Regions from separate parts of the Homo sapiens genome. Here region 2 is linked to region 1. The links come from fine-mapping of genetic effects on gene expression. A gene starts in region 1. The other region holds a variant in brackets. All regions are shown on one strand. Distances are from middle to middle. Region 1 holds the start of EDDM13 (epididymal protein 13). Region 2 overlaps ZSCAN5A (zinc finger and SCAN domain containing 5A).

Evidence for each region. PIP is the estimated chance that this variant, and not a neighbour inherited with it, causes the effect.
Region 2: its variant is fine-mapped to the expression of EDDM13 in sun-exposed skin (GTEx, PIP above 0.99). The same link has a PIP of 0.9 or more in unexposed skin.

Annotation. Positions count from the first base shown.
Region 1 is chr19:56,263,323-56,279,402 of GRCh38, forward strand. It overlaps EDDM13 (epididymal protein 13), which reads left to right and starts at 9,426. Exons shown (of 15, transcript NM_001354658.2): 1 at 9,426-9,597; 2 at 12,770-12,787. The coding sequence starts at 9,513. All of the region lies in intron 2 of ZSCAN5A (zinc finger and SCAN domain containing 5A), which reads right to left. It overlaps LOC124900420, which reads left to right and starts at 9,426. Exons shown (of 5, transcript XM_047439799.1): 1 at 9,426-16,080.
Region 2 is chr19:56,295,209-56,311,288 of GRCh38, forward strand. All of the region lies in intron 2 of ZSCAN5A (zinc finger and SCAN domain containing 5A), which reads right to left. EDDM13 (epididymal protein 13) reads left to right here. Exons shown (of 15, transcript NM_001354658.2): 10 at 751-759; 11 at 1,128-1,154; 12 at 2,297-2,323; 13 at 6,760-6,887; 14 at 9,585-9,622; 15 at 14,916-15,246. The coding sequence ends at 14,940. It overlaps LOC124900420, which reads left to right. Exons shown (of 5, transcript XM_047439799.1): 5 at 1-15,246. The coding sequence starts at 11,033. The coding sequence ends at 12,151. Among named protein-coding and RNA genes, the nearest start is that of ZSCAN5A-AS1, 11 kb to the right of the region's middle. The variant G/A (reference allele first, on the strand shown) is at 6,309.

The sequences.
Region 1 (16,080 bases):
CAGGAACATGTTATGTGCCCTCTGGAACAAATAATATTTCACTTTTCCGAAAGCCAGAGCTTTGGGATCCCAGATCTAGTAAGAATCATCTTATTCATCTTCCTTTCATCTCCAAGCCAGAAGGAGGCTCGTTGAATTTACAGGGATGGAGTTGCAAAGGGCATTAAGGAATCCTGCATCTATGCTATCAGGACCTACCAGTCCCAAGTGGCTTTGATAGATAAAATGTTCTGAGTGCCTTAACCCAGAAAAACTGCAACTCTAGACCCTGGATGTTCTAAACGACGCAATCAGAACATCTTCCCATATTCTTTGGAAGAAACTCTAACACTTTCCTCTTTCTACTTCTACCTAAAACATCTGAAAGAAGGGAGGCGAGAGAGGAGAGAATTATGCATTTAAACAAAGACAAGGAATTGCGAAAATCACCATTTTTAAAGAAGTATAGATTTCATAAGAACCTCTGAGATGATGATAATGCATGATAATAACATGTAATAACAATAATTATAATAGTATTATGCTTCTATGAGCCATATAAATATTATATGCTATACATATTGCTAAGTGTTTTACAACCTTCACCTCATTTATTTCCCCCTAAAAGTCTATGATTTTATGTAAGAGGAAAATGAAGCTCCAAGAAAAACTTTTTTTTTTTTTTTGAGATGGAATCTCGTTCTGTCACCCATGCTGGAGTGCAATGGCATGATCTTGGCTCACTGCAACAGCACTATCTTGGCTCACTGCAACCTCCGCCTCCCAGGTTCAAGCAACTCTCCTGCCTCAGCCTCCTGAGTAGCTGGGATTGCAGGCACCCGCCACCTCACCCAGCTTAATTTTTTGTATTTTTAGTAGAGATGGGGTTTCACCATGTTGGCCAGGCTGGTCTCGAACTCCTGACCTCAAGTGATCCACCTGCCTCAACCTGCCAGTGTTGGGATTACAGGCATGAGCCAGCACACCCAGCCCAAGAAAGACTTTTTGGACACTATCTCAGGGTAAGGGAGTAGCAGGATTGGGATTTACACCTGGATCTGACTCTCAAGCTCATGCTCATTCCACTACAGAAAATGACCTGTTTGTTCAGGTCTTCCTATTAACTGAGATCTTCCATCTTCCAGGAATGATGCAGTACATTCCAAGAAAGATGTGTTATGGAAGTGACATCAGATCTGAATCCTGAAGTCAAAGTTTCATTTAGTAGAAATCAAGGTAAGATGAGGAAGTGTTGGGAGACTGGACTATGAAGTATGAAGAGTCTGTATCAGAGGCTGGCAAACTATAGTTGACCATTTGTTTTTATAAATAAAGTTCTATTGGAACATAGCTAGCTCCCCTTGCTTATGTATTGTCTCTGGTGGCTTTCTCACTACAGTGGCAAAGTTGAGTAATTGCGACAGGGACCATATGGCTAACAAAGACAAAAATAGTTACTATCTTGCTCTTGACAGAAAAAGTTTTCCTACTCTTGATCTAGGTCACACTAAAGCTTTTAGTCATAAATGCTATCCTAGGGCTGGGCGCGGTGGCTCATGCCTGTAATCCCAGCACTTTGGGAGGCCGAGGCAGGTGGATCACTTGAGGTCAAGAGTTCAAGGCCAGCCTGGCAGACATGGTGAAACCCCGTATCTACTACAAATACAAAAATTAGCCAGGTGTGGTGGCAGGCGCCTGTAATCCCAGCTACTCGGGAGGCTGAGGCAGGAGAACTGCTTGAACCTGGGAGGCGGAGGTTGCAGTGAGCTGAGATCACACCACTGCACTCCAGCCCGGGTGACAGAGTGAGACTCCATCTCAAAAATAAATAAATAAATTAAATAAATGCTTATCCTGTATGTAATGTTGAGCCATGGAAGGATTTGGAGTAGGGGAGACACATGGGCTTATTTCAGAATTACAAAAAAACCATTCTCAGATCCATCCTAGCACAGGGCACTCCCATGATAAAGGCATCAACAACACAATTCCAAACCATCTTCACTTCTCAATCTTTCACCTTGAATACCATTTCAACAAATATTAATTGAGCATCTAGTATGCACCTATACTCTATGTAAGTGGTTAAAGCTGTAAGCAAGCAGTAAGGCTTGAAACTTAAAGCTGGTGGAAAGTAAACTGAGGAAGTGAGCTTTCTCTTTGAGAGATCCAATGGAAGGAAGACTATGTACAGAAGGACAGCAGCCAGAGGTTGCCTTAGAACACAAACAGAGCTGAACTTCTTGAATCAAGCAGGTTTTTTGGGTTCCAGTGGCAGAAACGGACTTTGGCTAGCTTAAAAGAGAAATCACTGGAAGGAACTGGCAAAGGGGTGGAGTTCAAAGGATTAAAGTGAAGGCTGGAGAGTGGGTTTGGGAAAGAGTGAAGCCTGGGAAACCAAGAGATTTCTGTATCATGAGCCACTCAACACTCTCACCTGAAAAGCATTAAATCTGCTTCTTCCACTCTTGCTTTACTCAATTCGAGATTTAAAGTGCCAGGTAAGCAGTCTGATTAGCCTGGCTTAGGACAAAGGTTGGTTGGCTTTAGTGTAAAAATAAGGATCTGGTGCAAGGAGCTTTGAGGGACCCTGCTTGCTTTTCATTATGAGAAAATGGGCACGTGCATTAACTATCCCACCAGGACCACATACAGTGGAGCAGAGGTAATTCTTCCAAAGGAAATCAGGGTATAGAGACTTAGCAGCTAAACAAGTTCACAAATGTCAATCATACCTGTATAGATTCAAATCCTACCTCTTCCAATTATTGGCTTTGTTGACTTTGGGCAAAGTTATCTCATTTGCAAAGAGAAATTATAATACTACCCAGCTCTTAAAATTATGAGCTAATAGATATGAAGTGCTTAGAACCACGTCTGGCACATCATAATCACCCAATTAAGCTTAACTGCTGAGAGTATTATGATTATTACTGCATGCTTGCTAAAAATAGCACCAAGTGATAGAGCCCACGGTGAGATCTAGGCCCTCATTCCAAAGCTCCCGCTCTTTCTGCCAAGCCAAGCTGCCTTTGCAGATCCAACCTCAGTTAAATGAGATGATAATGTGTGTGAAGTTGTTGGGGCAGGTGCCCAAAGAGGATGCTCAATTACTGTCCAAGACTTTCTTCCTCTCTCCCCAAAGAAGTGAGTAGGCTTAGGCTTTGCTTTCTGCTTGGGAGATGCCCCCACTTTTTTTTTTTTTTTTTTTTTTGAGATGGAGTCTCACTCTGTCACTGAGGCTGGAGAGCAGTGGCGCGATCTCGGTGCCTGGTTCAAGCAATTCTTCTGCCTCAGCCTCCCGAGTAGCTAGGACTACAGGCACCTGCCACCATGCCCGGCTAATTTTTTGTAATTTTAGTAGAGACGGGGTTTCACCATGTTACCCAGGATGGTCTCGATCTCCTGACCTCGTGATCCACCTGCCTTGGCCTCCCAAAGTGCTGGGATTACAGGCGTGAGCCACGGTGCCTGGCCGGAGATGCCCATATTTAATAGAGAACCAAGTGGGTGTAAGAGGGCCCAGGGAAAGCAGACAAAGAGGAATGTTCCTGGTTTGTGCTTACTATCATTCTCACGGCGGAGCCCACTCAGGTTTGTTGACAATCTGGCCCCTGCCTACCACTCTAACCTCTCCTCCCTCCACATTCCCATGAGCTTACCCTGCTCCATCCACAATGATCTTCTTTCTGCGTGTCAAATTCCTTCTGCTTTTTTCTGCCTCGGGGTCTTTGCACAAGCTGTTCCCTCTGTCTAAGCTACTCTTACCCCAGATCTTCATTAGGATCTAAACTCAAATGTGACCATCTCAGTGAGGTCTCTCCTGACAACTCTAGCTACGGCAGCATCTCAACCCCATCGGTCTCTAACACATGGCCCTATTTCAGTTTCTTTGCAGCAATGACCAGTACATGAAATTATATATGTGTTTGTCAATATTGTTGTTTGTCTTCCTACACCAGACTATAAACTCCACAGGGTTAGAGAAAGTGCATCCCCAACACCGAGACTGCTTGGTTCACAGAGGGTGCTTTTACACATATGGCTCTGTCAGAACTGTCATAGCAACCCTGTTAGGTATATAGTCTATTAAGGCTGAGAGGCGCTTAGTATCATGATTTAGAGCAGCACTGTCCAATATATGTAGCTATTTAGATTTACCACGTAGCTATTTAGATTTACATGCTTCATAATGAAATAAAATGAAAACTTCATTTCCTTAGTTGCATTAGCGTCACCTCAAGTGCTCAGCAGCCGCACGTGGCTAGTGGCCACCATTCTGGGTAGCACGGATACAGGACATTCCTATCACTGCAGAAAGTTCTACTGGACAGGGCTGGTTTAGAGCATTCACTGCAGATTCATATACTTAGCTTCGAATCCCAGTCCTGCCAATTACTAGTGGTGTGATTCTGAGTGGACCTTATGCTTTTAGATCTCACTTTTTTCATCTATAAAATGACGCTAATAACAGTTCCCATCTCATAGTGTTGTAGGAGTTATTATAGGCAAAGGCTCTTAGAAGAGCATCTGGGATGTAGTCAGTGCTAGAAAAAGTATCGACTGTTGCTATGACACCTCCATTTTTACTCCCTGAGAAACTGAGGTCCAAAGAAAAGAAATCCTTGTCCTAGTGCACACAGCCAGGAGGTGGAGGGAGCTGAGGTTTGATCCCGCACCTCTATGATTTCAGAGCCTGGCTAAATCCGATGACACTTTTCAGGTCCCTTCTGGGAAAAATCCCTGAAACTTCTGACCCATTGCTCCCTTATCTGTTTAGTGGGGGACAGAAGACTCCAAGGGCTCCTCTATCTAGGATAGATGTGAAGGAACTGACTGGAGAGCCAGCCAGAGCCCAGGACATGGGTTGTCTATTCTAGGACCTAGTCAGTGGCTTGGGACTCCTTGGGGGTTGGGAAGCCAGGCTGCCCAGGACACAGAAGCATTGGTGTGGCTGAGCCAGTCATGCCAGCTGCAGCCGAGACCCCTTGTGTGGGCGCTGCCCCTGTGGGTGTAATGGCCCCTGCGGCAGGGACAGAATGCTCATCCCTCCCACCTGCTCAAGCTCTGGGACTGCCCCAGGAACTGTACAGAGGGGTTGAACTATTTCCACTTGTTTCCCTGTAGAAGCCTCAGATGCTGCTGCTGCTGCTGCTGGTTTAATTTTTAAATTTAGTTACTTTTAATACTTTTTAAATTTAGTTACTTTTAATATGCACAGTCCCTATGCTTGTACTGTTTTCTTTGTTTTGTTTTGGTAACATGGGATTTTTAATTGCTATTTTTAGAGCTTTTAACACATTTTTCTACATTTAAAACTTTTTTAATTGAGGTAAAATTCATATGATATAAAATTAACCATTTTAAGTGTACAATTCAGTGGCCTTTAGTGCATTCTCGATGTTGTTCAACCGTCACCCACATCTAGTTTTAAAACACTTTCCTTACCCCTCACCCCATCTCACTAAGCAGCCATTCCTCTTTCCCTCCCCATTCCTAGTCCCCGACAACCACTATCTACTTTCTGTCTCTAAGGATTTACTTGTTCTGGATATTACGTATCAATGGAATCATACACTAGGTAGTCTTTTGTGTCTGGCTGCTTTTACTTTGCATAATATTTTCAAGGTTCACCCATGTTCTAGCATGTATCAGTACTTGATTTCTTTTTACAGTTGAATAATATCCTATTATATGGCTATACCACACTTTACCCATTAATCTATTGATGGACATTCGAATCATTTCCATATTTTGACTCTAGTGAATAGTGTCGCTGTGAACATTCGTGTGTGAATATTTGTGTAATTACCTGTTTTCCGTGCTTTCGGGTACATACCTAGGAGTGGACTTTCAGGGTTATACGGTAGCCCTATATTTAACTTTTTGAGAAACTGCCAAACTATCTTCTACAGGGGCTATACCAATTTACATTTCCACCAGCAATGTATAAGAGCTCCAATTTCTCCACATCCCCTCAATATACTTTAAAACATTCACAATTATATGGCATAATAATATAATAATTAATGATAATAATTGTTGCTATCATTAATAGGAGGAAACCGAGGCTCAGGGATATAGTCAATTGAGCAAGTTTATGCATCTGTGAGGCAGGCAGAATAATTGTCCCTGAAGATACCCACATCTGACTCCTGGAACCTGGGAGTGTGTTACTCTCAGATGTGATAAAAATAAGACTGTTAATCAGCTGACCTTGTGGGGAGATTATCCTGGATTACTGGGGTAGGTCCAATGTAATCACAAAGGATCTTGTAAGTGAAAGAGGGAGGGAAATGGGTAACAGAGGGAGACGGAATGATGAAAACAGAGAATCAGAGCAATGTACGGTGAGAAAGACTTGACCGGCCATCGCTGGCCTGAAAATGGGAGAGGGTTGGAGAGAGATTTGAAGACGCCATGCTGTTGGTTAGGAAGATGAAAGAGGCCGACCAGGAGTCAGGAATGTGGGCAGCCTGTAGAAGCTGCAGAAGGCAAGGAAACAAATTCCTCCTAGAGCCGGCAGAAGGAATGTAGCTTTACCAAGGCTTTTCACTCTATCAACCCATTTCAGACTTCTCAATTCCAGAACTGTATGATAATAAATCTATGTCGTCTTAAGTCACAAATTTTATGGTAATTTGTTATGGTAGCAAGAAGAAACTCAGGCCAGCCGTAGTGTGGTGGGGCAGGGATTGGCATCCACACTGGATTGACTCAATGTCTGTGATTCTAACTGATTGGCTGTCTGTGACTATAACAACCAGGTTTTTTGCCGTCTCCAGGTCCAGCACCACTTCCCTGCTCCACATAGACATGAGTGGATCTCACAAACATCACGCTGGGTGAAAAAAAAAAAAAAGATCCCAGCACTATGGGAGGCCGAGGTGGGTGGATCACGAGGTCAGGAGTTCGAGACCAGCCTGGCCAACATGGTGAAACCCTGTCTCTACTAAAAATACAAAAATTAGCCAGGTGTGGTGGCGCACGCCTGTAATCCCAGCTACTCAGGAGGCTGAGGCAGGAGAATCGTTTGAACCCAGGAGGCGGAGGCTTGCAGTGAGTTGAAATCGTGCCATTGCAATCCAGCCTGGGCGACAGGGTGAGACCCCGTCTCAATAAATAAATAAATAAATACATACATAGCTAGCAAGTTGTGCAAGAAAGATTCAGTGAAACACCATTTAGAATAAATGTAAAAACACACAAAATAATATTACATACGTGTACTGGAGCCAGCTTATGAGGGTCAATTGTTAACGTTTTCAGTTTTCTACATTTAAAACATTTTTAAATTGAGGTAAAATTCCTCATTTTAGCTGCTTGCCTAACATAGCCCAATACTCAAAACTAAATTGTATAAACTTGAACATAAATAAGTTATAATAAAAATAGAGTAATAAGCACTAAAAGCTCATCACTTCCTAGTTGTGGCTCCCCAAACATGGTGGCGGTGGTGGTTGGTGTGGGGTGGGTGGGGCAGGTGCTACTGTGTAATTGATAGGGACCAGAGATGTTGCTAAATATCCCACAAAGCGGAAGACAGCCCCCACCACAAAAACGATCTAGTCCTAAATGTCAGCTGTGCCAATGGTGAGAAATCCTGATCTTCCCTAAAGCATGAGTTCCTCATGAGCAAGGCCAGTATCTGACTCATCTCTGTCCCCAGATCACAGTCTGGCAGAGCAGATAATGCTAAAGAATATTAATGATGTTCTACATCCCAGGCATTTGTTGCATTTAAACCCTAGTGTTATGAGTTAGGGACTGTGATTATATTTGATAAAGCAAAGAAACAGCTGTGCTGGTAATGAGGCTGCTAAGGAAGGATGGAAAATCGAAACGTAGGACTAATCAGAGAAATCCAAATATGCTCCCCCAACCAATCACAATGGCCTCTAATTAACCACTGCCAGCTTCCTTATGCCAACGGCCTCCAACCAGGCACTCTTGAAGCCTTCCCTTTCTTTCACTATAAGCTTTCCCACTACCCTGCCTGCCTTTGAGTCTGTGCCAAACACAAATGGTGTCAGTGGCCTCCCTTATTACAGCAAGCTCTGAATTAATAGCCTTTGCTTGTTTTCATTGGGTGGTCTTTACTTCCGCATAGCACCGGATGTGAAAAGCCTTCCACATGTTTTACGCCTTGTTTCTTCTGCTCATTATAACAAATCCTGTAGTATCACGTTTTCCCGGTGATGAGTTGCCAGGACCATGTGCTCACAAAGGAGGGGAGCTCTGAAATATGGCAAATGGCCAACAAGAACTCTCTCCTCCAGCCTAGTCTGAAGGATCGCTGAGGTATCCCCTAATGTACATGAGATGGTCCAGCTTGTACTAGGGATTGAAACATAGATAGCACCAGAGATGGCGGCAGGAGAGAGTCCCCTGCAAGAGTGGACATCCCTCCACACCTGGAACTCTTTCCTTCCAGGACACTACACACAACCCTCTGTTTCTATCAGGCTTGAAGGAAGTACCATAGAAACCTTCAGAGCTTAGATAGACCAGTGGTCTCTACACTCTGCCTTTATTCCAGGAGTCCAGAGGGATACTGGGTCAAGTTCATATTCCCACTGACAGCTAAAGTTCTTGACTGTCAAAGCAATTTCTAAGAATTACCAGTGGAAACAGTTAGTTCCCTGTGGCTGCTATGAAAAATTATTACAAACTTAATGGCTACAACAGTACAAATTTACTATCATACAGGTGTGATATGATAGTATCACATTAGCCTGGAAATATCATTATCCCAACTTTATAGATCAAGAAAATGAAGCACAGAGTGGTTAAGTAACTTGCTCAGGGTACATAGCTAGTAAGTGCTAGAGGTAAGTATAAACGTAGACATCTTTGGAAAGGAATATACACAAAAATGTAAAAACAATACTTACTTCTGAGTAGAAATACGATAGATGTTGTTTGCTTGCTTTGTTGTTTTTCTGAAATTTACAGTACGTCTAGGACAGGGGTCCACAAACGTTTTCTATAAAGGGCCGGACAGTAAATATTTTAGGCCTTTTGGCCCAGATGGTCTCTGTCACAACTACAAAGCTCAGTCTTGCAGCCTGAAAGCTGCTGTAGACAATACATAGTGAAATGGCATGGCTGTGTTCCAATAACACTTTATTCATGGACACTGAAATTCACATTCTATATAATCTTCATGTCATGAAATATTTTCTTTTGTTTTTTCCCTCCAACCATTAAAAAAGGTAACAATTACTCTTAGCTCATAGGCCCTACAAAAACAGGAGGAGGGCAGGATTTGGCCAGCAGATCATAGGATGACAAGCATCACACTCAGCATGAAACTGTTCTAAAATGTTGCTTTAAGATGAAAAAGCAGATACAGTTCTTTGGTCAGCAGTTGGTGGCGTGGGCACAGGTCTGGAGACCTGCCAGCCTCCAGGCAGGCTAGAGGGCAGGTGTGGGCAGTTAGTTTTGTCCCTGGAGCCTGGGAAGACGGTGGGTGACCAGAGAGTCCTGTCTATCCTAGGAGGAGAACATTCAGCCCAAATCCCAGCCCCATCATGCACAGATCAGAGCCATTTCTGAAAATGTCGCTGCTGATTCTGCTTTTCCTGGGATTGGCAGAAGCCTGTACTCCTCGTGAAGGTAATGCTTCCAGCCATGCCTTGTGTCCTCTATGTATTTTCTTACAACTTGGGAGGCTCTTGTGGGCTGGATTCAGAGAGAAGCTCCTGAAGTCTAACAGACTTCTTCTTGCTTCCCATTTAGACATTCACATTTCCCTTGATGGACACAGTGGGGTGAATGAGTCTAGGTTGCTAGCCCCTGCCCTTGGAGATACACTTGTGTCTGCATCCTGGTTTCTATCACTGATTCTGTGACTTTGGGGAGACACTGCGTCTGCAAACCTTGCTGTCCTCATCTGACCAACGGGGCTCACAAGAATCCCCAGTTCATGGGACTGTTGCATGTCATTGACGAGCTTACGTTGTGCAGTGCCTGGAAGTCAACATTACCATAGTTAGATAATTCTAGTGAGACTCCAGACTTTTGCGACGTAAAGACACCAAAGAGTATATTGGGAAGAGGACTTGGGTCTTGCCATAACTCTGAGTTCCCATTTCCTCATTCGATCCACAAATGTTTATTCCTGGTTCTTTCCACGGGCTTGATGCTGGGAATATAGTGATGAAAATAGTTCTGTCTTCATGGAATTCTCATGCTAAACACACACATTCTAGTGTGGGGATTCGGAGATGGCCTCTCTAGAAAAGTCACATTTGAGGTAAGGAATAGGAGCTGGCCAGCTGAAGAGTTAGGAGAGACTATTCCAGGCAGAGACTTGAATATGCAAAGGTCCTGGGGCAGAAGGCACTGAGTCCCTCCATCAGAGAGAGGCCGGTGTGTCAGGAACGTGGTAGGCAGAAGGAGGGGCATGGTGGTGAGACTGTTACAAGTAAGAAGAGACAGGAGGCAGGAAACAGAACAGACGGGGGCATGTGAGTCACAGGAAAAATGTTGGATGTTATCCTCAGGGAAAAGGAAGCTGTGAAAGGGTTTTCAGCAAAGGAGTGTCATATTTAGGAGCGTGTGTGTGCATGTATGTGTGTTTCTGTGTGTTTAAACAATGTGTCTTGCCCTCAGGAAAGAATGGATTAGGTGGGAATCAGATTAGGGGCAAACACACAAGTTAGAAAACGTTTTGGTCATCAGGGTGAAGATGGGGATAAGTAGAAGGTTACGAGGCACTGAGGAAACAGCTCACAGGATTGAGTGATGGGTCAGATGCTGGTGGTTGGGGATAGAGAAGCATGCAGAAAGGCTCTCTTTATACATACATGTATTTGCAACTGGGGAATTGAGGCTGCCCTTAACTGAGATGAGAAAACTCTGTAGAGGTCGGGCGCGGTGGCTCACACCTGTAATCCCAGCACTTTGGGAAGCCAAGGCAGCTGGATTATTTGAGGTCAGAAGCTCAAGACCAGCCTGGCCAACATGGCGAAACCCCATCTCTACTAAAAATACAAAAATTATCCAGGCATGGTAGTAGGGGCCTGTAATCCCAGCTACTCAGGAAGCTGAGGCAGGAAAATCGCTTGAACTCAGGAGGTGGAGGTTGCAGTGAGCCGAGATCCTGCCATTGCACTCCAGCCTGGGAAACAGAGCAAGACTCTGTTTCAAAAAGAAAAAAAGAAAAAAAAAAAAACTCTGTAGAGGAACACGTTTTTTAAAAAATTTATTTTGAAATTATTTTAGACTTGAGGAAAAGTCACAAAAATTAAGTTTCTGAATATTCTTCACCCAGTTATCTCAGCTGTTAACATCTTACCTAACCATAGCACAATGACTAAAAGCAAGACCCAACACCAGAACAAAACTATTAAAGAAATTACAGACCTCATTCAAATTTTACTAATGTTTCTACTAATAGAAAAACTATTCTATTTGAGGATCCAATCCAGGATCCCACCTTGTATTTTCAATTAAGTTTTTTGTTTTGTTTTGTTTTGTTTTGTTTCAGAAAATCCAGCTCTTGCTCAACCATGTTGCATTTTGTTATCCCATCTCCTTTGGTCTTGTGATTTGTCCTTAGGATGTGTGATTGAACCTCCTCAATCTTTGTCTTTCACGACCCTGAAACATTTGAAGAGCTCTGATCAGTTGTTTTGCAGAATTTCTCTCAATTTGGGTTTGTCTGAAGCTTTCTCATGATTGGATTGAGACTATGCATTTAGGGCAGGAATACCACAGAAGTGGTCTCACACCCTTCCCCGGGAATTATATCAGGGACCACATGATGTTGATGTGTCTTATTACCCATGGTGTAAACTTTAGTCCCTCGGCTAAGGTGGTGTCTGCCAGGTTTCTCCACTGTTAAGTTACTATTTTCCCCCTTTGTAATTAATAAATACGCTGGGGGAGAAATTTTGAGGCTATGCGAATACCCTGTTCTCCTCCAATTTTTGCCCATTAATTTTAGCATCCATCTGTGGATCTTGCTGCAGAAATGATTGCTACAGTGCTTCTCCAATGGTGATTTTCTATTCCCCTTATTCATCTACATATATTCAATGGCCTTTCTCTGTAAGGAAAAGCTGACTTTTCTTCTCCATTTATTTATTCAAGTACTGTATTTATTTATATCAGCGTGAACTCAGGGATATTTATCGTATTGGTTGGGTGCAGTGGCTCAAGCCTTTAATCCCAGCACTTCGGGAGGCCAACGCAAGAGGATCACTTGAGGCCAGGAGTTTGAGACCAGCCTGGGCAACATAGTGAGACTCATCTCTACAAAAAATAGTAAGAATAAATAAAAAGTATTGCATTAACAGATTATTTTTTGATGGATAGGAGTGTGATGACCACAGATTCTTTTTTGAACAGGCTAAGCTTGAAGCACCTGTAAGATGTTTGGGACATCCATAGATAGCAAGTTCTGTGAGAACAGAGTTTGGGGTGTCTAGTGTACTCTTATACCAGAACTTCTCTTCCCAATCAGCCTTGCAAATACCTACAGAGCAGGGGCTGAATCTGATTTATCTGCGTCTCCAACACCAAACATGGGCCAATGCCCAGAGCATGTACCATGTGAATGTTGGTTGGATGGATGATGAACGAATGGACTTATCGATGGATGGATGGGCTGATAGATGGGCCCGAGTAGCTTTATTGATAGCAGTGAGTGGGTCAGCTGATCTCCAGGGACACTTCTATCTCTGGTCTTCTTGGTTATTGCACTGATCTGAGTCTAATGCTAATTTCTCTCTCTGCTCCCTGCTCCCGTTGTGAACTGGCTGGCTGATGCTTTTGTCTCCAGTTGCAACTAAAGAAAAAAGTAAGAACCGTGGAACCCCCAAGTCTGTATTTTCATAGCTACCTCTCCTAAAATTCTTTTCGATCTTGCAACCTCTCTGGCAATTCTGGGGAAGGGTGGCACTTGGATCTGGTGCACAGACCTGCCATGGGGTCTGGACATGACTCAGAAAAGCAAACCTATTGTTTGCTTACAGTGATGCTCACAACTAAAAGAGCAGCCCTCCTTCACTCCTTTGTCTGGGGAAGAGAGGCCTATTCGGAAAATGAAGAGCATTTATCAGGGAAGAGAGACTTCGGGCAGATCTCCATTAGAATAACACCTTGGCTTATGTTTAACACCAGCTGGTGGTTTGCAAACTTCATGGTCTTAGGGCCACTGAACACGCGAAAAAAATTATTAAGGATCTAAAGAGCTCTTTTTTTTTTTTTCCAGTGAGGGTTATTTTTATTTATTTATTTATTTTTGAGACGAGCCTCGCTCTGTCGCCCAGGCTGGAGTGTAGTGGTGCGATCTGGGTTCACTGCAACCTCTGCCTCCTGGGTTCAAGCGATTCTCCTGCCTCAGCCTCCCGAGTAGCTGGGACTACAGGCTGCGCGCCACCATGCCCGGCTAATTTTGTATTTTCAGTATAGACGGGGTTTCACCATGTTGGTCAGGCTGGTCTCGAACTCCTGACCTCAGGTGATCCGCCCACCTCGGCCTCCCAAAGTGCTGGGATTACAGGTGTGAGCCACTGTGCCCGGCCAAAGGTTATCTTTATTGATATTTACCTTATTGTAAATTCAAGGATTTTTAACTTAAAAATATTTATATTTACAAATATTATAAATATTTACAAATACAAATACTTATATTTACAAAAACTATTTCTATTTACAAATAAGCACATAAAAAGATGCTCAACCTCATTAGCCATCAGAAAAATGGAAGCCAAAGCCACAGTGAGGTATCACTTCACACTAACTAACGTGGAGAAATCAGAACCCTCATATGCTGCTGGTGGGAATGTGAAATGATACAGCTGCTTTGGAAAACAGTCTGGCTGTTCCTCAAAATGTTAAACACTGAGTTACTCAGCAATTCCGCTCTAGGTATGTGCCCAAGATAAATGAAACGTAAGTCCACACAAAAACCCATGCACAAATGTTCACAGCAGCACTATTCCTAAGAGCTAGCAAGTGAAGGTAATCCTAGCATGCATCCATTAATGAATGGAGAAACAGAGTGTGGTCTATGCATACAATGGAATATTATTCACCCATAAAAAGAAACAAAGTTCTGATGCATTCAACATCGTGTGTGAGCCTTGAAAACATTATTCTCAGTGAAAGATGCCAGTGATAAAAGATCACATATTACCTGATTCCGTTTACCGTATATGAAATATTCAGGATAGGCAAATCCATAGAGACACAATGGACATTAGTGATTTCCAGGGGGTGAGGGGTGGGGGAATTTAGAGACAATGACTAAGGGGTTCAGGGTTTATTTTGGGGTGATTAAAGCCTCTAAAACTGGTGTAGTGATGGTCGTACAAGTCTGAGTATCCTACAAACCACTGAAATGGGTGAATTGCATGGTATGTGAATTATATCTCAGTAAAGCTATTATTCAAATATCTATTACTGCATTAAAAAAATAAGGATAATAGAGACTCAGAAGGAAGGAGGGTGGCAGGGAGGTGAGGGATGAAAACTACCTTTTGGGTACAATGTACATTACAAAGATGCTGGTGCACTAAAATCCTAGACTTCACCACTGCACAATTCATCCATGTCACCAAAAACCACTTGTACCCCTAAAGCTACTGAAATTAAAAATATTTGAAAAATAAGGATAATAAATATACATACTGACATAAATAAAATGTTTTAGTGAAATGGCTGTTTCCAAACCAAAAAAGTTTAGTAAGAAAGGTATTATTTTACATTTTTGCAAATCTCTTTGATGTCTAGTTTAATAGAAAACAGCTGAATTCTCATTTCTGCTTCAGTCTGTCACAATGTGCTATTTTTTTTTTTTTTAGCTTTATGTGTTTGTTTATTTTGGAGACGTAGTCTTGCTCTGTCGCCCAGGCTGGAATACAGTGGCACGGTCTCGGCTCGCCATGACATCTGCCTCCTGGGTTCAAGCAATTATCTTGCCTCAGCATCCGAAGTAGCCTCCCAAGTAGCTGGGACTATAGGTGCATGCCACCATGCCTGGCTAATTTTTGTATATTTAGGAGAGACAAGGTTTCACCATGTTGGCCAGGCTGGTTTTGAACTCCTGACCTCAAGTGATCTGCCCACCTCGGTCTCCCAAAGTGCTGGGATTACAGGCGTGAGCCGCCCCGCCCAGCCACAATGTGCTATTTTGGTTGAAGCAAATGAAAATCTAATCTCACACAGATAAGGAGTTGGAAAAGGGAAGATCATGCAGACCCGTTTTAGGCAGAGTTCTCCAGAGAGACAGAACCATGAAGATATACATATAGATACATATATAGATAAAGATATTGATAGAGATATTTGAGAACAAATTTCTTAGGGGAATTAGCTCACTCAGTTGTGGGGTCTGCAAGCTGCAGAACCAGGAGGGCCAGTAGTGTGGCTCAGTCCAAGTCTGAAGGCCTCAGAACCAAGGAAGCTGATGGATGGTCTAACTAACTCTCAGTCTGAGGCCAATGGCCTGGGAGCTCAGGGAGCTGTTGGTTCAAGTCCTAGAATCCCAAAAGCTGGAGTACCTGGAGTTCTGACATCCAAAGCCAGGAGAAGGGCATCCCAGCTGCAGAAGGGAGAGCAAGAATTGACCCTTACTCCACCTCTTGGCTTCAGCTGGGCCTCCATCCAACTGGATGGTGCTCACCCACCGTGAGGGTGGATCTTCCCTACCTAGTCTTCCAACTCACACCCCAATATCCTCCAGAAACACCTTCACAGACACACCTGGGGCAGCCCAAACATTCTAATCAAATGCCAAACCACTCAGGCTTCCCTTTCAGCAGAAGACGGATGGACTCAGTGCCTACTGAAGCATTGAGAATAAACGTCTTACTGCTATATGGGTGCCTTAGTCAAGCTGACACCCCAAATCAACCATCACATCCCCTGAAAGGATCTCAGGGACCACCTCCCACCCCCACCAAGTAGTCTTTGGATGATACTTCGAGAATTTCTGCTCCAAGTCACATGGAAGGGAAAAAGATCTCTTTTTTTTCCACCCCTACTAGACTGCAAGACTGTAAGTTCCTAGAGGGCAGGGACTGTACTTTACTCAATCTGTTTATTCCTATAGCCTAGCAAAATTCCTAGCGCTCAGTAGGACTAAAT
Region 2 (16,080 bases), 32 kb after region 1:
AACAAAGTTCAGAAAACAACAACGGGTGGTGGGATGGAATGTGCCACCCCTGGATGAGTATGTAGGTGCCTACATTAGAGTGACACAAAATACATGGAAAAAAGGCCTGGCATGGTAGCTCACACCTGTAATCCCAGCACTTTGGGAGGCTGATGCGGGCGGATCACCTCAGGTCAGGAGTTCTAGACCAGCCTGGCCAACGTGGTGAAACCTCCGTTTCTACTAAAAATACAAAAATTAGCCGGGTGTGGTTGCGGGTGCCTGTGCTCCCAGCTACTCAGGAGGCTGAGGCAGGAGAATCGCTTGAACCCGGGAGGCAGAAGTTGCAGTGAGCCGAGATCGTCCCACTGCACCCCAGTCTGGGCAACAGAGCAAGACTCCGTCTAAAAAACAAAAAACAAAACAAAACAAAAACAAACAGAAGAGATGGGAATGGCGTGGCGGCTTCCTTCCCAGCCTAACCTTGCTGCGGTGCAAATCCTGCAAGTCACTGCACGTCCCTCCAACCCACACGAAGCAGCCTCTGACTGTTCTGCGCTGTTCACTGTGGCATGTCCTGACTACTCAGCACGACCCACCCAGGGCTCCGCTCTCCTGTGCTCCCATCGCTCTGTCTTCTGATGTTGTGATTTTTCCCTACATGTGGCCTCCTCTTCCACGGCTCCTGGGAACTCCATACTCTGGGCCTGTCTGCTCCCCTGACCTGTCTTGCTTCCTGGACCCCATCTCCTTCTGGATGGACATCATCAGAGATCCTAGGTGACACCTCACTCCATGCCTGCCCCGGGACTCTGTAGGAAGCTGGTTTGGGAGGAATGCTTTTTAGGGCTGGGCAGGGTGGTGGAAAGCTGAAAGATGGATCTGACAAGCTCACACCCTCACGTCAACTCACAGTCTAGTGGAGGTGGGGAGATGGAAAAGTAACAGGCAGTTAAACTACAACAGGAATCTGTGTGGCACAGGGGGGAGGTGGCAGTGGGGACAGTGTGCAAGAGGACGATGCGGGCAATCCAGCAGGGCTTCTCGGAGGAGGAGTGGCTTGGGGCGAGCCTGCTGGACCTGCTGGTCTGGAAGTGTTTATCATGCTGTCCCTTCTGACTCGCGTTGTATGCCCCTGTCCTCCTTAGGCTTGCTGAGCCTCCAAGTACTGCATGGTAAGTCTGGTGACTGCTATTTCGTGTTCACTCCTGTGCACAGAAATATACAGGTACTGGTTTTTTCTATGGTGGGGGGTCCCTTAAATATCATCAGACCCTACACTCTTTATCCGTATCATCATCTGCATCATAAATGTTTAACATGTTTTTATTTGTCCAACAGATATTAACTGATGTTAGCTCTCCTGTACCAAATGTTATTCTAGGTGTTAGAGATGCAGCAGAGGATAAAACAGACAGAAGTCTGTGACCAAGTGAAACTTGTATTCCAATCAGAGGAGAAAAAACAAAGAGCAGTAGTTATAGGTCTGCTGAAGGCTATTATGTCCTATGGAGACAATAGAGTAATGGGGATGGAAACGCAGTGCGGGAAACTTAAGTTTTTTGGCTGGGCATGGTGGCTCATGCCTGTAATCCCAGCACTTTGGGAGGCCGACGTGGGTGGATCACCTGAGGTCAGAAGTTCGAGACCAGCCTGGCCAACATGGTGAAACTCCGTCTCTACTAAAATACAAACAATTATTTTGAAACAAATTTTGTAAACATAGAAAAAATTAGCTGGGCATGGTGGTGTGCACCTGTAATCCTAGCTACTCGGGAGGTTGAGGCAGGAAAATCACTTGAACCTGGGAAGCAGTGGTTGCAGTGAGCCGAGATCATGCCATTGCACTCCAGCCTGGGTGACAAGAGCAAAACTCTGTCTCAAAAAAAAAAAGTTTTTAAAGGGCGATCAGGGAACATGACATGTGAGCAAAGGCTTGAAGAAGAAGGGCAGGTGAGCCAGAGATAACTGGGGGAAAGGCATTCCAGGAAGAGAGAACAGTATATGCAAAGGCCCTGAGGCAGCTGAGTCCCTGGGATCCAGGGACACAGGGAGACTAACTTTATTCTCTTCTCTCCTCATTCGAGGCACCTGGAAGCACTATTTAGAGTTTGGTCTCCACCCACTTCATAATTCACCTGATGGTTTCTTTTCTTTTCCTTTCTTTTCTCCTCCTCTTCCTCTTCCTCCCTCCCTCTCTCCCTCCCTTTCTTCCTTTCCTCTTCCTCTTCCTCCCTCCCTCTCTCCCTCCCTTTCTTCCTTTCCTCTTCCTCCTTCTCTTCCTGCTTCTTTTTCTCCTCCATCTCTTCATTTTTAGAAGAAACAAGTGGCTGCAAGGAGGAAGGTAAGTGCTTGGGGTCGTACCATTCCTCATCTATAAGACAGTGTGTCCCTTCTGTCTGGGCTATGATAAAGCCTTAGAAGAGAAGATTTCAGGTAATCAAGGCCCTGCAGGGGCTTTGGTACCTGAGAGGCTGCCTTCCTGAAGGGCATCCAAAGTCTGCAAGCCACTGCCCCTTTCACACTGCTCATGGGCATCGAGGAGACCCAACATACTGAGATGTGAGTGGGAGACATTTCTATCCCAGCTGCTGCTTCTGTGGACTGTGAGTCCTCTCTTCCCGACATGGAAATTACCAAGCTAAGTCCTGGGTGATAGGACTGAGGGCCGGAAAACCAGAAAATAGCAGCAAGCCACCAAGTGATCCAGATGGTGGAGATGAGCGTTTTAAAGTAGGCAGAGCCGGGCATGGTGGCAGCACCTGTGGTCCCAGCTACCCGGGAGGCTGAGGCAGGAGGATTATTTGAGCTGGGGAGGTGGAGGCTGCAGTGAGCCGTGATTGTGCCACCGCATCCGGCCTGGGTAACTGAGCAAGTCTCAAAAAAAAAAAAAAAAGCCAGAACAACACTAATGGTTGGTTCTTTTGAAAAGCGTAATACAAATTTAATCCTCTAGCATTACTGACAAGAAAAAATAGAGGAGAAACAAACTGCCAATATTTGGAAGGAAGAAGAGAGTATCATAGCAGATCTTGCAGGTAACAAAATAACAATAAGGTGATCATTGGAGAAACTTTATGCCAATAAAATTGAAAGTTTAGATAAAACGGACAAAATCCCAAAAAAACACAAATTACCAAAAACAAATGAAATGATATAAAAAATCTGGGCTGGGCGCGGTGGCTCACATCTGTAATCCCAGCATTCTGGGAGGCCGAGGCAGGCGGATCACAAGGTCAGGAGATTGAGACCATCCCACCCAACATGATGAAACCCCGTCTGGTGAAACCCCGTCTCTACTAAAAATACAAAAAAATTAGCCAGGCGTGGTGGCGGGTGCCTGTAGTCCCAGCTACTCGGGAGGCTGAGGCAGGAGAATCACTTGAACCTGGGAGGCGGAAGCTGCAGTGAGCTGAGATCGTGCCACTGTACTCCAGACTGGCAACAGAGCAAGACTCCATCTCAAAAAAAAAAAAAAAATCTGAATAATCCTCTATCTATTAAAGAAATGCCACCTGTAATTAAATAGCCTTACCACACACAAAAAAGTCTTTCAGGATCAAGTTAGCTTTAATAGTGAATTAAAAGGAAGAAATCACATTGATCTTACAGGAAATCTTCCAGAAAATTAAAAACAGTCATTTCCCAACTCGGTTTTAGGACAGAATAACCTTGATAAAAGATCTGACAAATACGACAAAGGAAAATTTCAGGCCAATCTTCCTCATAAATATAGATGGAAAATCCTAGACTAAATATTAGCAAGTGCAATTTGGCAATACATGTTAAACAATCATGACTAAATTCACTTTATTCCAGCAATGCGACAATGGTTTAATAGGTAAAAACAAATATATGGTATTCCCACCTTATTAACATAAAAGAAAACAAGCACATTATCATTTCAGTAGATACAGAAAAAGAATATGGTAAGATTTTACAGCTTACATTATTTTTTTTTTGAGACACGGTCTAGCTTTGTTGCCCAGGCTGGAGTGCAGTGGTATGATCACGGCTCACCACAGCCCTAAACTCCTAGGCTCAAGTGATCCTCCCCTCTACAGCCTCTGAGTAGCTGGGACCACAGGCACGAGACACCACACCCAGCTAATTTATTAAATTTTTTGTAGAGTTTGGGTCTCCCTATGTTGCCCAGGCTGGTCTCAAATTCCTGGGCCCAAGTGAGCCTCCCGCCTCAGATTCCCAAAGTGCTGGAATTACAGACATAAGCCACCATGCCCAGCCTTGTTCATGATTAAAAAAAAAAAAAATCTCAGCTAGCTAGGAGTAGAGAGAACAGCTTAATATAATAAGGAATAGCCACCAAAAACTTACAAAGAACAAGCTGTTTAAGGTAAAACACAGTTGTCCCTCAGTATCCTCAGGGGTTGGGTCCAGGACCTCCCCGCAGATAGCAAAATTCCTTGATGTTCAAGTCCGTGATATAAATAGCATAATGCTTGCATTTAACCTATGAACAGCCTCCTGCACACTTTAAATCATCTCTAGATTACTTATAATACAATGTAAATGCTCCTTAGTTATTGTACTGTTATATTTTTGTATTGTTTTTATTGTTGTATTGCTATTTTTATTGGGATTTTAAAAAGTATTTTTGACCAGTTTTTGGCTGGGTCCTCAGATGCAGAGTCCAGCGACACAGAGGGCTGAGGGTGTAGAACATGTTCCCTCTGAGATCACAGATGAGACGTTCTTGCTATCACCACTTGCATTTCACATTGGACTGAACGTTCTATCCAGTGCAAATCCTAGCCAGGCAAGAGAAAGGTAATAATAGGCAAAAGGATTGTGAAGAAAGAAAGATGAGCCTCATTTTTTATAGATGTGATTGTGTACCTTTGATTGGGAGGGTATATCTGAGAGGCTTGGGATATGCTGGTGTTGGTGAAATATAATTAAAAACAAAATATCCTCCAAACCCAGAGCTCTTCTCCACCCAGGTAGAAGAGAAAGAAAATAGTTTTATTAATGGGTAAGCATTAAACCAGAACATGATATGCGAAGAGACTGCAAAGACAGAAAAAAAAAATTTCACCCTTTTATATAGCCAAGCAGATACAACTTATTACATACCTGCTCTCAAGATAAACAACAGCTAGTCCTCAAGTTAAAGAACTTGACAGCTCTATTTGCTGTACATGGTTCACCGTAAATTCACTTGGTTATTGGGATAGCCAACTGTGTTTGTTAATTGGCTTAATCCAAGGGAAAAATAAACTTCTAGTATCTTTATCACAGGAGGTAGATTTGCTACTTGGGGTGAGGTGCCCACCAAAGTTAGGCTCCATCCCCTCCCAACAAGAAGCTGGGGAAGATGTTTCGAGGTCCTTGAAAACACCCTCCTGGGTCATAATGCTGGCCGCAGGCTTACTTAGCTTTGAAAAAGATTAGTGTAAACGTTGAAGAGAGAGAGACTTGCAATGGCAAAATTTTCTAAAGTAAATGCTCTAAGCAAAGGGGACAAGGAGTAATCGCTTCCTGAATTTTCAACAGGGAGAATTCATTTTTTTTCGTTTTCGATTTGCATTTGCCTGTACACTGGTAATGTTTTATTTTTTGATTGGAAACCTGTTTAGACAGACAGGTTTACGTGTAAAAAAAAAATGAGATTTTCTGAATGTAATACTTTTAAAATAAAAAGACAAGGGAAAAATGTTACACAGGCGAAAGAAACACTCTTGCACCTCATGAGGTTTGACATAAGAAAGCGACACGGTCGGATCTGGTGCTAGAAAGATCCTGCTGGCACTCATGTGGGAGATGGATGAGAAAGAGAAAGGATGGCGTAGTGGGCAGAGGCAGCCATCAAGAGCAGAGCCTGAAGCCTGGGGATGGGGGAGAGGTGGTGGTTTTGTTACCAGAAAGGGGTCCCGATCAAGACCCCCAGAGAGGGTTCTTGAATCTCGTGCAAGAAAGAATTTGAGGCAAGTCCATAAAGTGAAAGCAAGTTTATTAAGAAAGTAAAGGAATAAAAGACTGGCTACTCCATAGGCAGAGCAGCAGCAAGGACTGCTGGACTGAGTCTCCTTATAGTTATTTCCTGAATATATGATAAACAAGGGGTGGATTATTTATGAGTTTTCCAGGGAAGGAGTGGAGATTTCCTGGAGCTGAGGGTGCCTCCCCTTTTTAGGCCAGTAGGGGAACTTCCTGAAGTTGCCATGCCATCTGTGAACTGTCATGGTACTGGTGGGCGTGTCTCTTAGCCTGCTAATGCATTATAATTAGTATATAATGAGCAGTGAGGACCACCAGAGGTCACTTGAATCGCTATCTTGGTTTCGGTGGGTTTTGGCAGCTTCTTTACC[G/A]CAACCTGTTTTATCAGCAGGGTCTTTGCGACTTGTATCTTGTGCCAACCTCCTATTGTCATCCTGTGACTAAGAATGCCTTAACCTACTGGGAATGTAGCCCAGTAGGGCTCAGCCTCATTTTACCCAGCCCCTATTCAAGACGGAGTCACTCTGGTTCAAACCCCTCTGACAGTTTGGTGAGAAATCTGGGCAAGACAGGGTCAGATTTGGTGATGTCTTGGATGTGAGGTGGGAGAGCCAAAAGGCATTCCTGACTGTTTGTCTGGAGTATGGTGGTAACCAAGAAGGGGGAAGCTGGCAGTGATGGTGGGTGTGGACCAAAATTTCAATTCAGGAGGCAGGCAGAGATGTGAGTTTGGAGATCAGAATGGAGAGACAGCAGTGACAGGAAGCTCTAAGGCAGGAAGGGAAGGCCATCAGCATCAATCATCTCCACGGTTCTCTCCAGTTAAACCCTTCTCAGGCACCACCCCATCCAGGAAACCACTCCCCAAGAGGAAGAACACGTGGAACTTCCTGAAATGCGCCTACATGGTGATGACCTACCTCTTCGTATCCTACAACAAAGGGGACTGGGTAAGAAGAAGGCAGCACGGAGGGGAGGAGTGTGAGGAGAGGAAGGAAAGAGGAGGGAAGTGGGGGCACAGAGGAAGCGAAGGAGGGTGCCTCAGAGGTGCCAAGCAGGAAGTGGTGGGAGAGCCCTTCTGTAAAACACTCTCTTCTTCCCACTCTCCCACCCGCCTCCATCTCTCATTTCATTCTTCCTTCCTCTCTCCTTCTTCCCTCTTTTCTCCCTCCCTCCCTCCCCTTCCTCCTTCCCTTTCCTCTTCCTTTTTTCTTCCCTCCCTTACTTCCTCCTTCTCTCTCCTCCCTCCCTATTCTTTCCTCCTCCCTTCATCCCTCCCTTTCTCCCTTCCTTCCTTTCTTCCTCTCTCCGTCTGCTTCCTCCCTCCCTTCTTCCTTCCCATCCTTCTTCCCTCTCTGCCCTTCTTTCCTTCCTCCCTCCCTCCCTCTTCTTCCTCCCCGTTCCTCCCTCCCTCCCCCCTTCCTTTTCTTCCTCCCCCTTTTCTTCCTCTCCCTCTTCTTCCTCTCCCTCTTCCTCCCTCCCTCCTCCTCCCTTCCTTTTCTTCCCCCCCTCCCTGTTCTTTCCTTCCTCCTTCCCTCCTTCTCTCTCCTTCCTTCTCTTTCCTTCTTCCCTCCCTCCCACCTCTAGACTGGGATAAAACTTCTCCCTTCTGCACTAACACAGCCCCAGGGGCTCCTTTGAAATACTGTCACTCATTCTGCCTCTCTCTCTGCCGCTGTCTCTTGTTCTTTCTAAGGGACGTTCATAAGGACCAAGCCTGTTGCTGGTTGCTGGGGACTCTGATGGTTGAGCTACCTTCAAGAAGGTCCTAATTCTGTAAGGGAGGCAGACATCCACAGAGAGAACCAGATCACCGAGTGGTAGCACTTCATGAGCAGGTGCTAGTGCAGGAGGCAGTGGCGCTTATCTCAGCCTAGGGGAAGTGTGGGCTCATGGAAGCCTTTCTGCAGGAGGTGACACCTCTGCTGTGGGTTAAGGACAGAATGGAATTAGCCAATTGAGGAGGGGAAGCAGGGGAAGCATTCCAGAGAAACACCATGTGCGAGACTCAGAGAGGTGAAAATAAGGCAGGGTGCAAGAAACTACAAGCCAGGCCGGGCACGGTGGCTCACGCTTGTCATCGCAGCACTGTGGGAGGCTGAGGCGGCTGGATCACGAGGTCAGGAGTTCAAGACCAGCCTGGTCAACATGGTGAAACCCCGTCTCTACTAAAAATACAAAAAATAGCCGGGCATGGTGGCGCATGCCTGTAATCCCAGCTGCTCGGGAGGCTGAGGCAGGAGAATCACTTGAACCTGGGAAGCAGAGGTTGCAGTGAGCCAAGATCACACCAGCCTGGGTGACAGAGTGAGACTCTGTCTCAAAAAATTAAAGTAAATAGAAAAAAAAAGAAGGAAAGGAAGGAAAGGAGGGAGGGAGGGAGGGAGGCAAGACGGAAGGGAAGGAGGGATGGAAGGAAGGACAAGTCATCCTTCATTCATTGATTCAGTCAGTCTTCAAATATTCACGTGTGTAGAGGACCCATCCTAGATGCTGGGGACTCAGAGAAGAACGGAACCCATAAGGTCCTTGAGTCCCCAGGGCTCCCATGTTTGGGATAGCAGGAGGACTGCAGAGAAACAAGCAGCCAGCTCCAAAAAACATGAACTAAATCAGGGTGATATCACAGAGTGAGCAGCCATGGCCACGGGCAGCCTTCCCCGGGCAGGTAACGTCTGGACATAAGAGATGAGACAGTGGAAGGATCTTGCCTTCAGAGCAGCTTGGGGGCAACCACTGCAAGCAAAGCAGGCATGCACAGCAGACCCTGAGGCAGGAACACACTGAGTACCTTCGAGGAACCAAAGGAACATCTATGTGACCTGAGAGGGGCAGGGGGGTCCAGGTCATGTAAGGTTCTCATAGACCACGAGAAGGAAGCTTGTGTTCTAAGCTAGTGGACAGCCGCCAGCAAGATCCCTTCTGAGTTATCAAAGGATCCTTCTCAATGCTGCCTGTGGAGAGTGGATCGGAATCAGGGCGAGAGTGGGAGCAGACAGACTGAGAGGAGGAGACACACTGAGAGGAGGCCCGACCAGCCAGCGCAGGGGACCTGGCGGTGCTCATGGAGATGAGAGCCGTGCAGCAGTTCTAAAGGAACTGCTTATGCGCTGGGTGTGAGGAATAAGGAAAATGGAGAGACCAGGGAGATGAGCCTGAGACAGTGACTTCAGTTATGCTAGTGGTTCTGAAACGGGGGTGACGTTGCCACCCAGGAGACACTCAGCAGTGTCTGGACCACAGGATTGGTTGTGACAGCTGGAGGAGGGAGCTCGACTGGCATCCAGTGGGCAGAGGCCAGGGAGGCCACTCAACCTGCCATACGGCCCAGGACAACACGCCACGACAAAAATAACCCAGGTCAAAACGTCAGGAACCTGAGGCTGAGAAACCCCAGCTTAGGGGATTGTGCTGCTTATGGGGATGAGGAGAACTGGCTGGAAGATGGGGAAGAAGGTGGGAGTGGTGAGAGGCGGGCTGAATAGAGAAGCAAGACCAGAAGATGTTACAACCAGAGGGAAAGAGCAGAGGGGGAGGACGGGAAAGAAGCGAGAGGGGGATGGGGAGAAAGGGAGGTAAGGAAGGAATTCACTCGCCTCACCCCAACTGTTTCTTTCTCTGTTCCCAGTTCACTTTTTCCTCCCAAGTGTTACTGCCACTACTGTAACTTGGAACTGGACATCAGGTATGCTATGGCAGGGAAGTGGGCTTTTCCCACCGCTGGGGTGGGGTTAGGGGAGGTTCATCCCAACTGCCTGGCATTTGAGGTAAGGAACACAGGTGGATTTGGAAGCTGCAATCATAGAAACCCAGAATTCCATGAGAAGTCCCAAGTTCGTCACCCTTACTTGCAAGCCACTGCCTGACAGGGGCAAGGAAACACATTGTAAATGACAGGGATGTGCCGGGCAGGAGGAACTCCTTTATAAATTCACTCTATAATTTTTTCACAAGTCTTAGGACTTGTGGCCCAACACACACGACATAAAATTAACCATTAGTGACATTCAGTACACTCAAAATATTGTGTGGCCATCACCACTAATCTGTTTCCAGAATCTTCTCATCATCCTAAAAGGGAACTCTGTACCAAGACATCGTCTCTTCCCCCTGTTCCTGGCAACCACTAGTCTACTCTCTGTCTCTGAGAACTCACCTACTCTGGTCATTTCATACACATGGAATCATACACTACGTGGCCCTTTGCATCTGGGTTTATTCATTTGGCATAATATTTCCAAGGTTCATCATGGTATACCTTGTATCAGGACTGTATTCGTTTCTGCTGGATAACACTCCACGGCATGGACATAGCACACTTTGTTTATCCATCATCAGGTAAAGTGCACTGGGTTGCTCCCACCTTTTGACTGTTGTGAGTCGTGGTGCTATGAACAAGTTATGTTAGAATATCTGTTTTAAAATCTTTTGGGGTACAAACTAGGAGTGGAATTGCTAGGTCATATGATAATTCTGTGTTTATAACGACCCACTGATGCATCCTGGATGCAGTAGTGAACGGGGCAGACAAGATTCCTGAGCTCACAAGAAAACAATTAGATGATTACAGGTGATACTTAGAGCTAGAGGAAAAGCTGAGGATATGATGAAAAAGAGAACTAAAGAACCTTGCCCTGGATAGTTGGGTGATGAAGGAAAGCCTCTTTAGGAAAGTGACAATGAATCAAAGGCCTGTAGAATGAGGGGTTGTCAGATACACAGAAAACAAGTGAAAGAGCCTCCAGGTGAAGGAACTGGCTTGTACGAAGGCCCTGGGGTGGAAAGTGGCCTAGATGTGCCTGGAGTCAGAAAGAAAAATGGGGGCAGGAGAAGGGGGAGGGAGTGGGAGGGCACTATGGGAGGAGTGTGGGTGACATGCTCAGCAGACCACCTCAGACCTGGAAGATTAGAGCAAGCATTTTAGACCCAACCTTCAGAGCCATGGGAAGCCACGGAAAGGCTGTCAGTGAGAAAGAGACACGTCCCAGTGACATGAAGTGTAGAGGCCAGTTAAGAGGCTACTCAGTTTCCACGAGATGACGGTAGCCTGGTCAAGGCTAGGGTCCAGGGTACGGAGAGAAAGTACGAAAGACAGATGGGAGGTTTCTCTTCCCTCGATAGCTGCAAAGAGGGTCCCCCTGGCCTCTCCCGCATCGCCAGAGAAAGTACTAAGGACAGATGGGAGATTTCTCTTCCCTTGATAGCTACAAAGAGGCTCCTCCCTGGCCTCTCCCACGTCGCCAGAGAAAGTACTAAGGACAGATGGGAGACTTCTCTTCCCTCGGTATCTGCAAAGAGGGTCCCCCCCGGCCTCTCCCCTGTTGCCAGAGAAAGTACTAAGGACAGATGGGAGATTTCTCTTCCCTTGATAGCTACAAAGAGGCTCCTCCCTGGCTTCTCCCACGTCGCCAGAGAAAGTACTAAGGACAGATGGGAGATTTCTCTTCCCTTGATAGCTACAAAGAGGCTCCTCCCTGGCCTCTCCCACGTCGCCAGAGAAAGTACTAAGGACAGATGGGAGACTTCTCTTCCCTCGGTATCTGCAAAGAGGGTCCCCCCCGGCCTCTCCCCTGTTGCCAGAGAAAGTACTAAGGACAGATGGGAGATTTCTCTTCCCTTGATAGCTACAAAGAGGCTCCTCCCTGGCTTCTCCCACGTCGCCAGAGAAAGTACTAAGGACAGATGGGAGATTTCTCTTCCCTTGATAGCTACAAAGAGGCTCCTCCCTGGCCTCTCCCACGTCGCCAGAGAAAGTACTAAGGACAGATGGGAGACTTCTCTTCCCTTGATAGCTACAAAGAGGCTCCTCCCTGGCCTCTCCCACGTCGCCAGAGAAAGTACTAAGGACAGATGGGAGACTTCTCTTCCCTCGGTATCTGCAAAGAGGGTCCCCCCCGGCCTCTCCCCTGTTGCCAGAGAAAGTACTAAGGACAGATGGGAGATTTCTCTTCCCTTGATAGCTACAAAGAGGCTCCTCCCTGGCCTCTCCCACGTCGCCAGAGAAAGTACTAAGGACAGATGGGAGATTTCTCTTCCCTTGATAGCTACAAAGAGGCTCCTCCCTGGCCTCTCCCACGTCGCCTGCCTTTCATCCTCTCCCTGGCATCCCCAGTGCCCTTTTTACATTAAAAAATGTCAACTCGATCATACGATATACCCCCACCCCCTGCTGCAGTCCTGCTTAAATCCACCAGTGGAAACTCACCAACTATGATGAGTGTCTTTCAAACTTTAAAAGAAAGAAAATCCAAAACACTTTTCTACTGAAATCTTACATGGAATCCCAATATATAAAAAATTCTAAGTTGCTTTTCATTACCAGAGGTACTTTTCCTAAGGTTAACTGTGTGACATTTACTTATTATGAAGTGAGGTGATGAGATTTGCAAGCACAGGGTACAGAAGGCCTCTGCTGTCTTACGTTACTCTCTTTTACCCCGTATCTTGCAGTGTTTCCTTTTAATTGTTCATACGGAGAAAAATCTGAGCCCACAGAGATAAGTCACTGCAAATGCCTAATAGTTTGCCTTGTGAAGTGTACATGCCCTTCAGGTAATACAATTTTTTCCCCAAGGTCTGTATGTAAAACATGCAACAGGTTGGTGTGGCTCTCCAGTGAATAAAAATTTCAGTCCATGTGCTATATTTTGGGTACACACCTATTTTAAAAAATAGTTTAATTTTTGAAATGAAAATCAAAGCAAACCTTTGTGGAATTCCTAAAAGATCCCAAGTTTTCAGGGAACCTGGCAGGAAGCCTCTGCCCCATTGATCAAGTTCAGGTCTCTGGCATGGTACCCAAGGGTTCTCAGGCTCCAAGCTCCTCCTGCTTCTCTAAACTTTTCTCCACTTCTCTTGATCCCCCCACCCACATTCCATCCCCTGTCCATATTAAACCTTTTTTTTTGAGACAGGGTCTCGCTCTGTCGCCAGGCTGGAGCGCAGTGGCGCAATCTTGGCTCACTGCAACCTCCGCCTCCCGGGTTCAAGCAATTCTCCTGCCTCAGCCTCCCAAGTAGCTGGGACTACAGGCGAGTGCCACCACGCCCAGCTAAGTTTTGTACTTTTAGTAGAGACGGGGTTTCACCATGTTGGCCAGGATGGTCTCGATCTCTTGACCTTGTGATCCGCCCGCCTCGGCCTCCCAAAGTGCTGGGATTACAGGCGTGAGCGGTGGCTCCCAGTCTTTTTTTTTTGAGATGGAGGCTCACTCTGTCACCCAGGCTGGAGAACAGTGGCCCAATCTCAGCTCACTGCAACCTCTGCCTCCCAGGTTCAAACGATTCTCCTGCCTCAGACTCCCAAGTAGCTGGGATTACAGGCATGCACCACCACACCTGGCTAATTTTTGTATTTTTAGTAGAGATGAAGTTTCACCATGTTGTCCAGGCTGGTCTCGAACTCCTGACCTCAGGTGACCCACCCACCTCGGCCTCCCAAAGTGCTGGGATTACAGGCATGAGCCACCACGCCCCCCCATATTAAATCATTTCTGATTCCCCCCAAAACATCACATTTTTTTTCCCGCTCCATTATGCCATTGCACACATTGATTCCTTGATCTCTGTCTACCTAGAAAAGTCCTCCTCAGTCCTCAAGATTCACCTAAGCAATGCTTTGGTTCAGGAACCAACAGCAATCCTTCAGATTCCACTGGGGAGGATGCTGAAGGAAATGAATGGTGTTGAACGGTTTCTCAGGCTCTCTTCAACCATACATTAAAGCACCGGTCAAACCAGATAGTTATTTTCATATAAAGGTGTGCTTTCAACCCATTAGGCAAGAGGTTGGCAAACTTTCTCTGTGAAGGGCCAAATATTACGTGTTGGCTTTTCAGGTCATATGGTCTGTTGCAACTACTCTAGTCAAAGCAATCGTAGAGAATACACTGATGGCTGTGACTGTACCCAACAACTGATGAAAGGATAAACAAAACGTAGTGCATTCATACAATGGATTATTATTCAGCCCCCAAAAGAGGAATGGGGTCCTGGCACGTGCAACAACACGGCTGAACCTTGAAAACACTGTGCTGAGTGAAAGAAGCAGACACAAAAGATCACACAGTAGATGATGCCATGTATATGAAACAGACAGATCTGGCAAATTCAAAGAGACAGAAGGCCAATTACTAGTTGTCAGGGGCTGAGGGGAGGAAGGAACAAGGGGAGTGACTGCTTTTAATGGATTTCTTTTTTGGGTTGATGAAAATGTTCCACTCTTAGAAGTGACAATTGCACAACATGGCGAATGTAATGAAGGCCACTAAATTGTGCCCTTTCAAAATGGTTAAAATGGTGAATTTTATGTTATGCATTATGTTTGCATTTTACCTCAATTACAAAAAGAAACTTTATTAAAAGGGATGCAGGCTGCAGTTGGCCCTGCGGAACACAGTTTGAGGGCCCCTGCTCACATAGACTGTGAGCCCCTGTGGGAGCAGGAAGTACCCCTGATCCATCCCTGGAACTCCAGCACCCAGAAGCAAACCTTAAGGTTCTCTTCCTGCAACTCTGAGTGACTCCAGCACACCAGGCTAGGGGGTGCAGCCCAGCCAGGCCTGGGCAGTCCCTGCTCCTGCGGGGCGCGCCCTCTAGTGGGAGGTAGGGGTGCAACACAAGCTCAGGCCCGGCGCCGGGACAGTGAGGAACTGGAGGGGGCGCTGCTTCCCACTGGCTGGTTTCTAGAAGAGCCCTGCTCTGAGGAGGAGACACTTGCCCTGGTGATGGGGCAGAGCTAGGGTCCATAAGATCTGAGGGAAGCGTGTTCCAGCTGCTGGAACAGCCCGGTGGGAATAGGGACAAACTTGGTGGAACCTAGTGAGTGGGGAGAATGGGCTAAGCTGGAGGGAGGAGGTGGGCTTGAGGCAGGTCACAAAGAGCCCTGTAGAGGTGGATGGAGAGGGCACCAGGCAAGGAGTATGAGAATGCATGAAGACGAAAATCAATGCACAAATACATTTCTCTCTCCTTTCTTAGGGATGATCCCTGCTGTTCTTTCTAGTGAGCCTGCTCCATCTCAGCTTAGCCTTCACAAGGCCTCCATCTCCCAGGCATTCTAACCTCTGAAGAAAGCTCTCTGTCCCCTGGACTGCCTGTGTGGAGGGTAATGAACTGGGTCCTTTAAGGAATGGCACCTGGGTGCCCAGAGGCATGGCCAGAAGGTGTCTGTGGGGGCCATGCCTTAGGGGGATGCACCCAGGGCGGCTGAGAGAGCAACTGCAGGAGTTTCCCCTAAAATCTCTCCTCCAGATCGTTCTCGAACTTTCCCCACTACTTCCATAATAAAATGTATACTTGTTGAAATGGCTGAAAAGGCTGGGTTATTCCATTCGCCCAACACTGAAAACTAACAGGTATGCTGGTGGATTACCAAGAATCAAACGCTATCAGTTAACTGTGCACTTTACAGGTGAAGACACTACAGCTCAGAGAGACCGATGGCTCGTCCAACATCACACTAAGCTACACAGCTGAGATTTGACCCAGTTGGACTCATTCCAAAGTCCGTATTCTTTTGTGTAAAGATTTGGGGCTGCCCCCACCGTCCTGAGGAAATACAGTTGTGAGGATATGGCTGTTCCAGGAGGAAGCCGTATCCAGCTCTCCAGCCTGCATGTTTCTTGCCTATTCTGGAGGAGGTTCCTTGTCCTGGTTGAAAGCTTTGGCTCTGGAGACAGGTTTCTTGGGTTCGAATCCCAGCTCCACCCCTTAATAGATATGCAGGCTTGGGGAAGGTATTGTCTCTTAATGCCTTATTTTATCATCTGTAAAATGGGGATAGTAACAGTAGGGTAGAAGTTCTCTTATCATCATGATCAGAACCATCACTGGTTGGTTCATCAAATAAGTTGGTTCCAATAGGTAATTAAAAATACTTTTACCATTTTGTTTTAAAACATAAAATTGTACAGGCATTTGCTAATCTTTTGATATAAGACCAGGGGGTTTCGTTGTTGTTGTTGTATAGGTCTATGGACCTACAATTTCCAGTTTGTCCCTTAAAAGGGCAGCGGAGACACAGGCATGCTTGCAAAGCTATTTAAGCAAAATCCTCACTGCATTAAAAAAAAGAAAAAGATCATCCCTATAGCCATCTTGCTCATTCCAACTTGACATATTTTTTGTTGTTGCTCTTATTAAC